Linked DNA regions of Homo sapiens. The protein of the gene in region 2 purifies or fractionates together with the protein of the main gene of each other region. This does not show direct contact. Each region holds a gene or a part of one and is shown on either strand. Other genes may lie near its edges.

The links. The genes of interacting proteins can lie anywhere in the genome.
Region 1: the proteins of AMY2A (region 2) and ANKRD9 purify together in Homo sapiens (affinity purification with mass spectrometry; one large-scale study listed by BioGRID and IntAct). This does not show direct contact.
Region 3: the proteins of AMY2A (region 2) and RIOK2 purify together in Homo sapiens (affinity purification with mass spectrometry; one large-scale study listed by BioGRID and IntAct). This does not show direct contact.

What each region holds. Positions count from the first base shown.
Region 1 is NC_000014.9:102,506,977-102,511,199, reverse strand, and holds the start of ANKRD9 (ankyrin repeat domain-containing protein 9), read left to right. Parts: upstream 1-1,423; 5' UTR 1,424-1,671; intron 1,672-2,347; exon of another isoform or gene 2,348-2,353; 5' UTR 2,354-2,559; intron 2,560-2,650; 5' UTR 2,651-2,725; intron 2,726-3,257; 5' UTR 3,258-3,310; coding exon 3,311-4,223.
Region 2 is NC_000001.11:103,615,933-103,620,226, forward strand, and holds the start of AMY2A (pancreatic alpha-amylase precursor), read left to right. Parts: upstream 1-1,494; 5' UTR 1,495-1,508; coding exon 1,509-1,676; intron 1,677-2,021; coding exon 2,022-2,168; intron 2,169-2,978; coding exon 2,979-3,176; intron 3,177-3,621; coding exon 3,622-3,852; intron 3,853-4,294.
Region 3 is NC_000005.10:97,163,308-97,166,247, forward strand, and holds part of RIOK2 (serine/threonine-protein kinase RIO2), read right to left. Parts: intron 1,841-2,940; coding exon 1,744-1,840; intron 1-1,743. UniProt on the Homo sapiens protein: Serine/threonine-protein kinase involved in the final steps of cytoplasmic maturation of the 40S ribosomal subunit. Involved in export of the 40S pre-ribosome particles (pre-40S) from the nucleus to the cytoplasm.

The DNA of each region.
Region 1 (4,223 bases), on a different chromosome or scaffold from region 2:
CCTCACAGCTTTGTCTGCCTCATGGTACTGTCCACCTGGCCTCTCAGGACTGCTCTGTGGCGTGTGTGCTTAAGGGATTGAGCTCGTTGGGCTGGGGACAGAGGCCTGCCTAGGTCTGTTGAGAGGGCCCAGGTAAGACTTCCACCCAGACTGACTGGCTGGGGCACACAGAGAAGCCAGGACAGGGCTGATTGTGTGTGCAGGGGCGTGCCCTCTGGACGAGGCCCCTCCCACCGGGGCGAGGCAGAGGCCTTGCTTGGTTGGAGCGGAGTGGGGGAGTGGGAGGGTCTCCCTGGTGAGATAGTACTGGAAGGGCAGGGACAGCATTCTAGGGAAGGAACCAGAAAGAGCCCCTGCATGGAATGTGGGGATTTCACCATGAGACCCCGGCTGCCTGGCCTCTGAGAACGTGTGTGGGGGGATTCCAGGTGGAAGGTCGTGTCTGGGAGGATGGGTGGGGGGTTGAGCAGTCATTGCCCCTCTCCAGATCTGCGTCCACATCTGTAAAATGGGCCTAGAATTCCCAGCCGCTGGGGGCGAGTGAGGCCATAAATTAGTTGAGATGGACCCAGGCTCCTAAGCCCCCTAGGTCATGACCCCAAACCTTGGAACCCCCGACGGAGACGGTGGGGGTGGCCGAGGCCCAATCGAATCTATCCCGCCCAGATGTGGGAAGAACCGCAGGGCAAACCCCCGGCTTCCCTCCTGGCCGCTCCTCTCTTTGAGGCCACCTCTCTGAGCCCTGATTTGCTGGCGGGTGAACTGGGGATCATCGTGTCCACTGTGGCTGGTGGTCGTGAAACGAAGTGGAAACATGAGTGTTGAGGCCGAGATGGGCGCAGTGCGCGCTCCTAAACAGCTGTCCCCATCCGTCCGCCCCTCCCTCCCTTGCGCGGGTCAGCTGGAGCGGGGGCGCGCCAGGCACGACCCTGGCCGGGCAGAAGGCGGTGGAGCCCTTAGGGGTCGCGGCTCCTACCCCCGGCCCTCCCATGTGCAGATGGGGTAGCAGCCTGGAGGTTTTTCCCAAGGTCACGTAAGGTCAAAGAAAAGGGGAGCTGGACGCGACGAGGAAAGTCACGCACGGCGGAGGGCGGGCCACCTACGCGCGCGCCCGAGTTCGCAGAGCAGCGGCGCCCTCCCGGGCTAGGGCAGCTCGGAGCTCGGAGCCTTTCTTCGCCCGCAGCTCGGGTTCCGGGAGCCCCGCCCCCGCCCATCAACGCCCCGCCCCTTTCGCCACGGCCCCGCCCCTCCTCTCCGTTCTCCCCGCCGGCGCTCCCTCAAGTTTCTCCGAAGTTTTCCGCGGGTCCAGCGGTGCGCCCCGCCCGCCGGCCAGTGACGTAACAATGGTGCAGCGCGGCGGCCAATGGGTGGTGGCGGGGGCCGGCGGCGCGGGCCAATGGCGGCGGCGGACGGTCCCGCTGTCCTGCCTGGCCGGGGCCGCACTGCGCCGCCCGCCGCCCGCCGCCCGCCGCCCGCCGCCGGCGACGGCACCGCCGCCCTGCGATCCGGCCGCGGCGGCTCAGAGCGCGGCTGCGGCGGGCGCGGGCGGCGGTGGCTCCCTCCCGTGCGTCCGTCGTGGGACCTTTGCCCGCTCGCCCGCGGGGGACAGCGCGCGCTCCGGTCCGCGGCAGGGGCGGGGACGCCCGGCCTGTGGCCCCCGCGCCCCCCATGGTGAGTCCCCGTCCCCCGCGCCGCGCCCGCGGCCGCCGCCCCCTCCTCCTCCGGCACACGCGCACGCAGGTGCAGCCCTCGCTGCGCCGGCCACCTGCGCGCGGACGCCCCGCTCGGCCCCGCGACCCTCCGCCGCCCGACGTCTGGCCGTGCAGGCCGGGAGGGGACGGGTAGGAGGTGGCGGGTGGCCCCGGGCGCGGCGCTGCCTTCGATGGCCCAACCCCCTTATTCACGAGCCGCGGCCGTGACTCTGCCCGGTGACGTGGGGAGGCCGAACTTTACGTAACCCGCCCGGCGCCCCACGCGTGCCGGCACAGGGCATATCTGGGGCCCGGAGGCCCAGGCTTGGGGAAGGGGCTCCAGTCACGGTGTTGCCCACGGGCCACAGCCTACCCGCACCGCGCCGCTCTCTTTAACTCAGTTACTGCCAGTGATAGTGACCCAGTCAGTGTGTGTGGACGCGGCCTGCCTTCTGTCCCAGGCCCCTTGTGACCAAGGGCTTACCCTTGAAAGAAGGCAGTAGGGAGGTTGGGACGGAGCCAGAGGTCAGACGCCTAGGCTCAGGTCGGGGCTGGGGACTCAGAGGGCAGGGTCAGGGCCTAAGCTCGATTGCCTGTGGGTTGGGGGTCCCCACCAATTCTGGAATGAGCCCAAACTGAGACGCAGGGGACCTGAGTTCTAGGCCTGGCTCTGCCGTGGCTTGCTGACCTTGGAGAATTGGAGAAGCTTGTGCCCTGCTGGAAAGTGGGATGGCAGTACCCGCTTCATCTAGTAGTCGGGGAGATCAAGAGAGGTATGGGACCTGAAGAGGATGGCAGACTGTGCAGTGCGGTGCACACCGGTCTCCAGGTTGTTTTCACCCTCCTATCTCCTCCCAGGAGCTAACGTGTAAGCAAACATGTTTGGATAGAGGGCTGGTGCCACGCCCCAGGCTCACCCCGCCCGCACAGCCGTCGTCCACCCCTCCCCTTTCTTACAGATAAAGCTGAGGCTCGGCCAGGGACTGTGATATACCCACATCCCCGGAACTAGGTGATCGCGGTGCAGGAACCAGGTAGGTCTGAGTCTGGATCATGCCTCTGAACAGCCCAGGAAGAGGCTCCAGGGGCCTCCAAGTGGTCTGGGGTCGGAGATCAGGGTCAGGGTTGCGCTTGGGCTGGAGAGTGGATTTGCCTCAGCTTGAGATGTGGGCCCAAGCTTTCTCATCCCCTCCCTGGCCTTTTCTTTATTTGGGGTCGTATGAACCTGGCTTAGGTGGGAACAGAAGCTCTTCCAGTGGGTCCCTGGGTTGGAGAGGGGAGGGGAGATTTGAGGGCATGGGCAGCAAGGGCATTTCCAGCAGAGGTGCCAGAGAGCAAGTCAGTTTCAAGGAGGGAGAACAGGTACAGCTAGATCAAGGATGGAGGCGGTGGTTCTGGGCGTCGGAGAGATGGAGCTGTAGGGTGACTGGAAGGGCCTGGCCGAGGCTGGAGGTAGGTACAGGCCTGGTGGGCCAGGACCGGAGGGGCTGTGTGAGGGGCAGAGGGGAGTCCCCGGGCCTCCCCAGTTTCCCCGCGCCTCACCGTGGCCTCTTCCTTTCCCCGCAGGTGTGCCTTCGCGGGATCCATGCCTTGAGGCCCAGGAACGCCCCGCCGCCAGCATGCCGTGGGACGCGCGGCGGCCTGGGGGTGGCGCGGACGGCGGGCCCGAGGCCTCGGGCGCGGCGCGCTCGCGAGCGCAGAAGCAGTGCCGCAAGTCGTCGTTCGCCTTCTACCAGGCGGTGCGCGACCTGCTACCCGTGTGGCTGCTGGAGGATATGCGCGCCAGCGAGGCCTTCCACTGGGACGAGCGCGGGCGCGCCGCCGCCTACTCGCCCTCTGAGGCGCTGCTCTACGCGCTCGTGCACGACCACCAAGCGTACGCGCATTACCTGCTGGCCACGTTCCCGCGGCGCGCGCTCGCACCGCCCAGTGCCGGCTTCCGCTGCTGCGCGGCTCCCGGGCCGCACGTGGCGCTGGCAGTGCGCTACAACCGCGTGGGCATTCTGCGCCGCATCCTGCGCACCTTGCGCGACTTCCCGGCCGAGGAGCGGGCGCGCGTGCTGGACCGGCGTGGCTGCAGCCGCGTGGAGGGCGGTGGCACGTCGCTGCACGTGGCCTGTGAGCTGGCGCGCCCCGAGTGCCTCTTCCTGCTGCTGGGCCACGGCGCCTCGCCCGGTCTGCGGGACGGCGGCGGCCTCACGCCTCTCGAGCTGCTGCTGCGCCAGCTGGGCCGCGACGCCGGGGCCACTCCCTCCGCCGCCGGAGCCCCCGCCTCAGCTCCCGGGGAGCCGCGCCAGCGCCGCCTGCTGCTGCTGGACCTCCTGGCGCTGTACACCCCCGTGGGTGCCGCCGGCTCGGCCCGCCAGGAGCTGCTGGGCGACCGGCCGCGCTGGCAGCGGCTGCTGGGTGAGGACAAGTTCCAGTGGCTGGCGGGCCTGGCGCCGCCCTCGCTCTTCGCGCGCGCCATGCAGGTGCTGGTCACCGCCATCTCTCCAGGCCGCTTCCCCGAGGCCCTGGACGAGCTGCCGCTGC
Region 2 (4,294 bases):
TAAAAACAAAATATTTGGAAATAAATGTTCATATTAATAAGGCGCATACCGTATGATCTTAGTCCAGTTAGAATATTCTGTTTTATTTCAATCCTTTAAAAGACTCAACTTCTGACTCTATATAGACGATTAAAAAAAGAATGTGTTCTCCCTTTGTGCATTTGGTCAGGTAAATTAAAAAATACACCACATGCTAGCCGCACCAAACTGGAATAAGCCTTTGGAAAGAAGTTGTCCTTGAAGCTTGTATCTGACATTGTAGCAGGACGAGCCTCAGACAAAACCTCTCAGACACTGAGTTGTAGAAGGAAGGGCTTTATTCAGCTGGGAGCATCGGCCAGCTACTGTCTCAAAATCTGAGCTCCCGGAGTGCACAATTTCTGTCCTTTTTAAGGGCTCACAACACTAAAGATTTCACATGAAAGGGTCGTGATTGATTTGAGCAAGCAAGGGATACGTGACAAGGACTACATTCACTGCTGGTCAGGGAGAAACAGAACAGGGCAGGGAGTTTCACAGAGTTCTTTTATACAATGTCTGGAATCTGTGAATAATATCAGCTTCTAAATCATAAGTTGATTTTTAGCTACTGGGTTTAGGCCAATCAGGCCCAGGCCTGGTTTCAGGCCTGGCGCTGGGCTGCATGTCTTTGGTTGTACTTCCTGGTTGTTTTTACTGAATAGAAAACAATATAAAACAAGGAGAGGGTCTTTGTCTCCTCTCAATATCAGCACTGGATTGTAGAATGTGTTGCTGATTTTGACCTTGTATTCAAGTTAACTGTTGCCCTTGGTATCTGTACATATCTTTGATTTCAGTCTTTACTACACGTGGCTTGGTCACTTCATGGCTAAAAACATGCTTGTGGAAGACCAGTCTGGCTCGGTGAGTCTGTGCGGCCAGCAGTCTCTGATCTGTACAGGGTATTAATGTGTCAGGGCTGAGTGTTCTGGGATTTGTCTAGAGGCTGGTAAGGGCTTCTGGACCACTTGTTTCTGTCCTGTCAGTCTGTCAGGGTTGGAAAGTCCAAGCCATAGGACCCAGTTTCCTTTCTTAGCTTACGTTATCTACCAGAGCACCGTGGGCTGTTACTTACCTTGAGTTGGAAGGGGTTCGCATTTATACCTGTAAAAGTATTCATCCTTTTAATTTATGTAAAGTTTTTTTGTATGCCATTCTGGATCTTTAAAGAGATGACAACAAATTTTGGTTTTCTACTGTTATGTGAGAACATTAGGCCCCAGCAACAGGTCACTGTTTAAGGAAAAATAAAAGTGCTGCCAGAACCTAAGAAAAACATTAATATCTAAAAGGTCATTTAGATGATTTCCATGAGAGACTTTTTGATGTTCTTTACCTGTTAGGATTATTATTGATAATCCTTTTCAGATTATGAATAAACAGTTTGCCCTCAAGTATTTATTCATGCTAATATTTACTTTGTAAAATGTGCTTCTTACAGGAATATAAATAGTTTCTGGAAAGGACACTGACAACTTCAAAGCAAAATGAAGTTCTTTCTGTTGCTTTTCACCATTGGGTTCTGCTGGGCTCAGTATTCCCCAAATACACAACAAGGACGGACATCTATTGTTCATCTGTTTGAATGGCGATGGGTTGATATTGCTCTTGAATGTGAGCGATATTTAGCTCCGAAGGGATTTGGAGGGGTTCAGGTGGGTATGATTCATAGTATCAATTGCGGAATTCACTGTGCTTGTAGGAAATAGTATTCTGATCTTATCTGTGAAGCTTGGGCAACATTTTACTTCACAGGTAAGTATTCTAAGTAAAAGAGATTTCTGAGGGAAAATCTATGTAGTATTCTTGGCAACTTTATATTTTGTTTCTGAGATAATCTTTCTTCACCAAGAGCCCTCCAATGTGCTGTTAATATTTTCAAGAGATAGCTGCCTATACCAAGATTCAAGAATCTTTTATACTATTGATTAGTTTCTAGAACATTCAATGATACACAGTAAGACAGAATTTGGTACTTATGAAGACTGTTTAATTTGTAGGTCTCTCCACCAAATGAAAATGTTGCAATTTACAACCCTTTCAGACCTTGGTGGGAAAGATACCAACCAGTTAGCTATAAATTATGCACAAGATCTGGAAATGAAGATGAATTTAGAAACATGGTGACTAGATGTAACAATGTTGGGGTAAGTGAATTCTAGTTTCCTTTAAAAATAACAGACAGGAAAATGGTTTCTCTCTCTTCTTTCTTGCTCCTTTTCAGCAGAAAATTTTCCGTATTTTATTTTTTTAATTTTACTTCATAATTTAAAACTCAAAATTAACTGTTTATTTATGTTCAACTTTTGTGAATATTTGTGTGTGTGCTATCTACTAAAGAGGTAAGTTAAAGTTTAAATCAGAATTTGCTTCTAAAGCAAAACATCAAATTTTAACCCTTATAACTGTTCGTATTTCCCGGAAACAATTTACTGGTTAGGAAGTATAATTCCAGTTACAATGTTTGCTATCATTTTTAGGTGACTTGTGTCTCCATCCGTAATTCTTGGGTTTTTCATGGTGAATAGCTAGCTTCTCTATTTAATGAGGAGCATAAATTGAGATTAATAGCTACCTTGTTTGTCTTCAAAAGCTTCATAGAGAGTACAGGCTTTCTCCTGGTGACCCACTGAAATTTCCAAAACAATAACCTTTCCACTCTCATCTGAGTTTTGTCTTCCCAAAGTGGGCTTTTTGCATTTCCTCCTATTTATGGTAGTTTCTGGTCTCTCAATTTATCATTCCTATAAATATTTGACCAAGTGTCTAGAAGGCATGTAGGTGTTTAGTTCACATTACTTTCCTTTCACAGTTGATTTTTGATCTTGTAGGAAAATAATTATAAGATATCATGAAATATTTTGGAGTTTTATTAACATACTATAAACTTGCATCAATAATGCTTTAAATTTCTACCTCTCTGTAAGTCACACTGAAGTAGAAACTTTGTTTTCTAGGTTCGTATTTATGTGGATGCTGTAATTAATCATATGTGTGGTAACGCTGTGAGTGCAGGAACAAGCAGTACCTGTGGAAGTTACTTCAACCCTGGAAGTAGGGACTTTCCAGCAGTCCCATATTCTGGATGGGATTTCAATGATGGTAAATGTAAAACTGGAAGTGGAGATATCGAGAACTACAATGATGCTACTCAGGTAATTTTTTTACGAGAGTGATCTGAATAAAAGAGTAATATATGCCTTTTCTTGTAGACATGTAGCTAATTGAATTTCATTTAAAATAGGAATTTAGATCTCTTAGGGACAGAAGTTAACAAGTTTGACTACTTTAAGAAACTCAAATCCATATTTAAGAACTTTCAAATATTGATTTAAGATTTTTAATCAATACACATTTGCCCACTTCTAAGAAGTTCCCAATTAAAAATCTCATCGACTTTATTTCCTAAATTCTCTATTTTCTATTAGAAAATATTTCAAAGATACATCTGTAGTAGAATGTGAGCATCCCCAGTGCCCAATGCAAGGAAGTCACTATAGAATATCTCTTGAGGAATCATGGAATAAATGAATAATCCAATGGATTCTCAGGAGAAAAATGAGGTTTTATGAATCAATCATAACATTTTTACCTCAACAGGTCAGAGATTGTCGTCTGACTGGTCTTCTTGATCTTGCACTGGAGAAGGATTACGTGCGTTCTAAGATTGCCGAATATATGAACCATCTCATTGACATTGGTGTTGCAGGGTTCAGACTTGATGCTTCCAAGCACATGTGGCCTGGAGACATAAAGGCAATTTTGGACAAACTGCATAATCTAAACAGTAACTGGTTCCCTGCAGGAAGTAAACCTTTCATTTACCAGGAGGTACATCAATACTTATATGCCTATAAAATATCATCTTATTCGTTAGAAAATTAATGGAAGATTTAATTAAAAATGCAATTTCTGTAGGATAAGGAATGAGACATTTACATAAAACAGTGTTCTTTAACCTCCTCTTCTTCACATACAGCATATCTAATTCTTTATCACAACATGTTTTATGGAGGTACACAGAATGTAGGATACTGATAATAGTTATGTCTTTACTTTCTTTGGATAATGAAACAAGTTAATATTTATCAAGGAATTTCAGTCGATACTAAATGTTTTATTAGTGTGAGCTCTTATTATTATCATTGATGTAGAAGACTAAAAATTAGGTAAGTATTTTCACAGGACAACAGGTATCTTTGACATTATGCTTCTTTCAATATTGTAGCCTATACTTTATCAAATAAAAGAATATAAGAATATTACCTGTTGA
Region 3 (2,940 bases), on a different chromosome or scaffold from region 2:
TGACACCATGAATTTTAAGATTCCAAACACTGACAGTACTATATAGAAACTGTTATATAGGAGAAATTAAATTCCAAACAGAAATACAGATTATATAGCAAAAAATATAGTGTATAGGCAGAATTTTTAAAAAATTACCATAGTGCCACCTAGTGTCCATCATGAAAACTGATGGAAAAAACAAGATGAAACTGCTTGTTCCTCTGCTTTTTAGGTTAAAAGTAGGCTTTTAGAGTAGATTTTGTATAGAAAATTATTTTTGAAAGCATTCAGTATTGCTGAATATATCCAAGAATGCCTTCACAGTTTCAGCTGTAGAATTGACCTGATGGTAGCAATCACCCATGGAAAAGTCTTCATATGTCTTTTGATCATAAATTCAAGTTACTTATCAGTTAAGATACACTGTGCAAGTCACATGACTTACAAGATGAATAAGAAATGTGAAATACTCAGTTCACAATGACCTTTTCTTTCTCTGAAGCACTACAGTCTGTTATTTAATAACTGTATATAACCTTGTATCATTCAACTTTTCTCCTAAAAAAGAAGATAGCTGCAAAACTCTGCAAAGCCAGGAACAAGGGTCTTCTTTTTTTTTTTGAGACAGGGTCTTGCTGTGTTGCCCAGGTTGGAGTGCAGTGGCAGGAACACAGTTCACGGTGGCTGCAACCTCCTGGGCTTGAGTGATCTTTCTGCCTCAGTCTCCTGAGTAGCTGGGAATACAGGTGTATACCACTACACCTGGCTAACTTTTAAATTTTTTGTAGACAGGGGTCTTGCTATGTTGCCCAGGCTGGCCTGAAACTCTTGGGCTCAAGCGATCCTTCCACCTTGGCCCCCAAAGTGCTGGGATCACAGGTCTGAGCCACTATGCCCGGCCAAATTTGTACTTATATCCAAGTACAAATGGCTGGGCGCAGTGGCTCACGCCTGAAATCCCAGCACTTTGGGAGGCTGAGGTGGGTGGATCACCTGAGGTCAGGAGTTCGAGACCAGCCTGGCCAACATGGTGAAACCTTGTCTCTACTAAAAATACAAAAATTAGCCAGCCATGGTGGTAGGCGCCTGTAATCCAAGCTACTCGGGAAGCTGAGGCAGGAGAATTGCTTGAACCCAGGAGGCGGAGGTTGCAGTGGGCTGAGATCATGCCACTGCACTCTAGCCTGGATGACCTCCGGCCTGGATGACAAGAGCAAAACTCCATCTCAAAAAAAAAACAAAAACAAAAACAAACAACAACAACAAAATTTTATACCATTAACATGTACGTCCAAGTGTCTGAGGCTTACACACCTTATAATCCTCACAGTGACCAAGCTCATTAATCTTCAGCTCATATGAAGAATGACTCATCCACCTCAAACCTGATCAATTTATCAAGTGACCTACATTAATTTTTTGAAACTCATCAGTTTGTATTCTAAGAAAAAATTACTTGAAATTTAGTCAACAGGCTGCCTAAAATCAGGACAATTGAAAAAGAAGGTGTTTTGAGTTTTACCAACAAAAAGTCATTTGGCCTTCATTTTACACATAATGGTGGCAGGACACAACTCTACCACATCCTTTGAGCAACATTCATTTATTAAAATCAAAGAAAGTACTGGTTTCAAGACAAGTCAAAAAGCAATCAACAGAAGTCTGTACCTGAAAGGCATACATTATTGTTTAATGAGACAAGGCAATCAGATCACAGTAGTGATGTAATAAACATTCAGTACATGTTGAATGACTACTTACTGGAGGAATTGTTGAACAGCTTACAGCACTGCCTGAAGAAGTGATACTCAGAGTTCTTGTTCTATACTGATTCATAGCTCCCACATTTTCTTCATCTCTAAAATTAAAAAACCCACAATTTATCTAGTTAATTTGTATAATGTAATGAATCCCATTTGATTAATTTATATTATTTTTTGCATGCAGCAAAACTGAAGACATAAAATACTTCAGAAAGATCATTATATTTTAAAATTTCTGTGAAGATAAAACTACCTACTGTTAAGTTCTATACATTAACAATTTTCATTTTCCAGCATTTTGTTAGTCACTATCAAAATTTAAAAACAGTAGAATGCTTAAGCCATTGAAATTTATCACCTCCCCACAATTCATCTTCCCTTTTCTAATAATCCTCTCCTCTTCTTTCACTGAACTATATAAATCTGTCTCTCCCTATCTAAATTTTTGAGACTCTTTCCACCTTCACAAACAGAAGATATAATGGAAACAGACAGTACTCATTATAGTCAGCTCCACTAGGGTAGGAAAATCTGCAACCTAGAGACTAATGTTTTTCACATGGCTCAAAGTTTCAATATATGCAATGTATAAAAACTCGGACGATATTAACTCCTAACAGTTAATATTTTTCAGCAACATCTGCTGTTCTGCTTTTACTTTGAATGGAAGTTTTGCCCAGCATGTATCCAGAGTGGGAACAAAATTATTGTTCCCATTCTGAGTTTAAAAGACCATTTAATCCTATATAGATTTTCTTCTATCACTGTGATGGTTAATTTTATATGTTAACTTGACTGGGCCTCAGGGTGCCATATATTTGGTTAAACATTAACTTGGGTGTGTCTTTGAGGGCGTTTCTGAATCAATAAACTGAGTATAGCAGATTGCCCTCCCCAGTGTGGGTGGACCTCATCCAATCCATTGAAGGCCTGATGAGAACAAAAAGGCAAAGTAAGAGAGAACTGTCTTTGAACTGGGACATGGGTCCTCTCCTTTCTTTGGATGTGGACTGGAACTTATGCTATTGTCTCTTCTGGTTCTTAGCTCTTTGGATTTGGACTGGAACTGTACCATGGGCTCTCCTTGGTCTCTAGCTTGTTGACTACAGATCCTGGGACTTCTCAGCCTCCATAACCCCATGGGCTAATTCCTTAAAATAAATCTCCTATTTATTCTGTTTCTTTGAAGAATCCA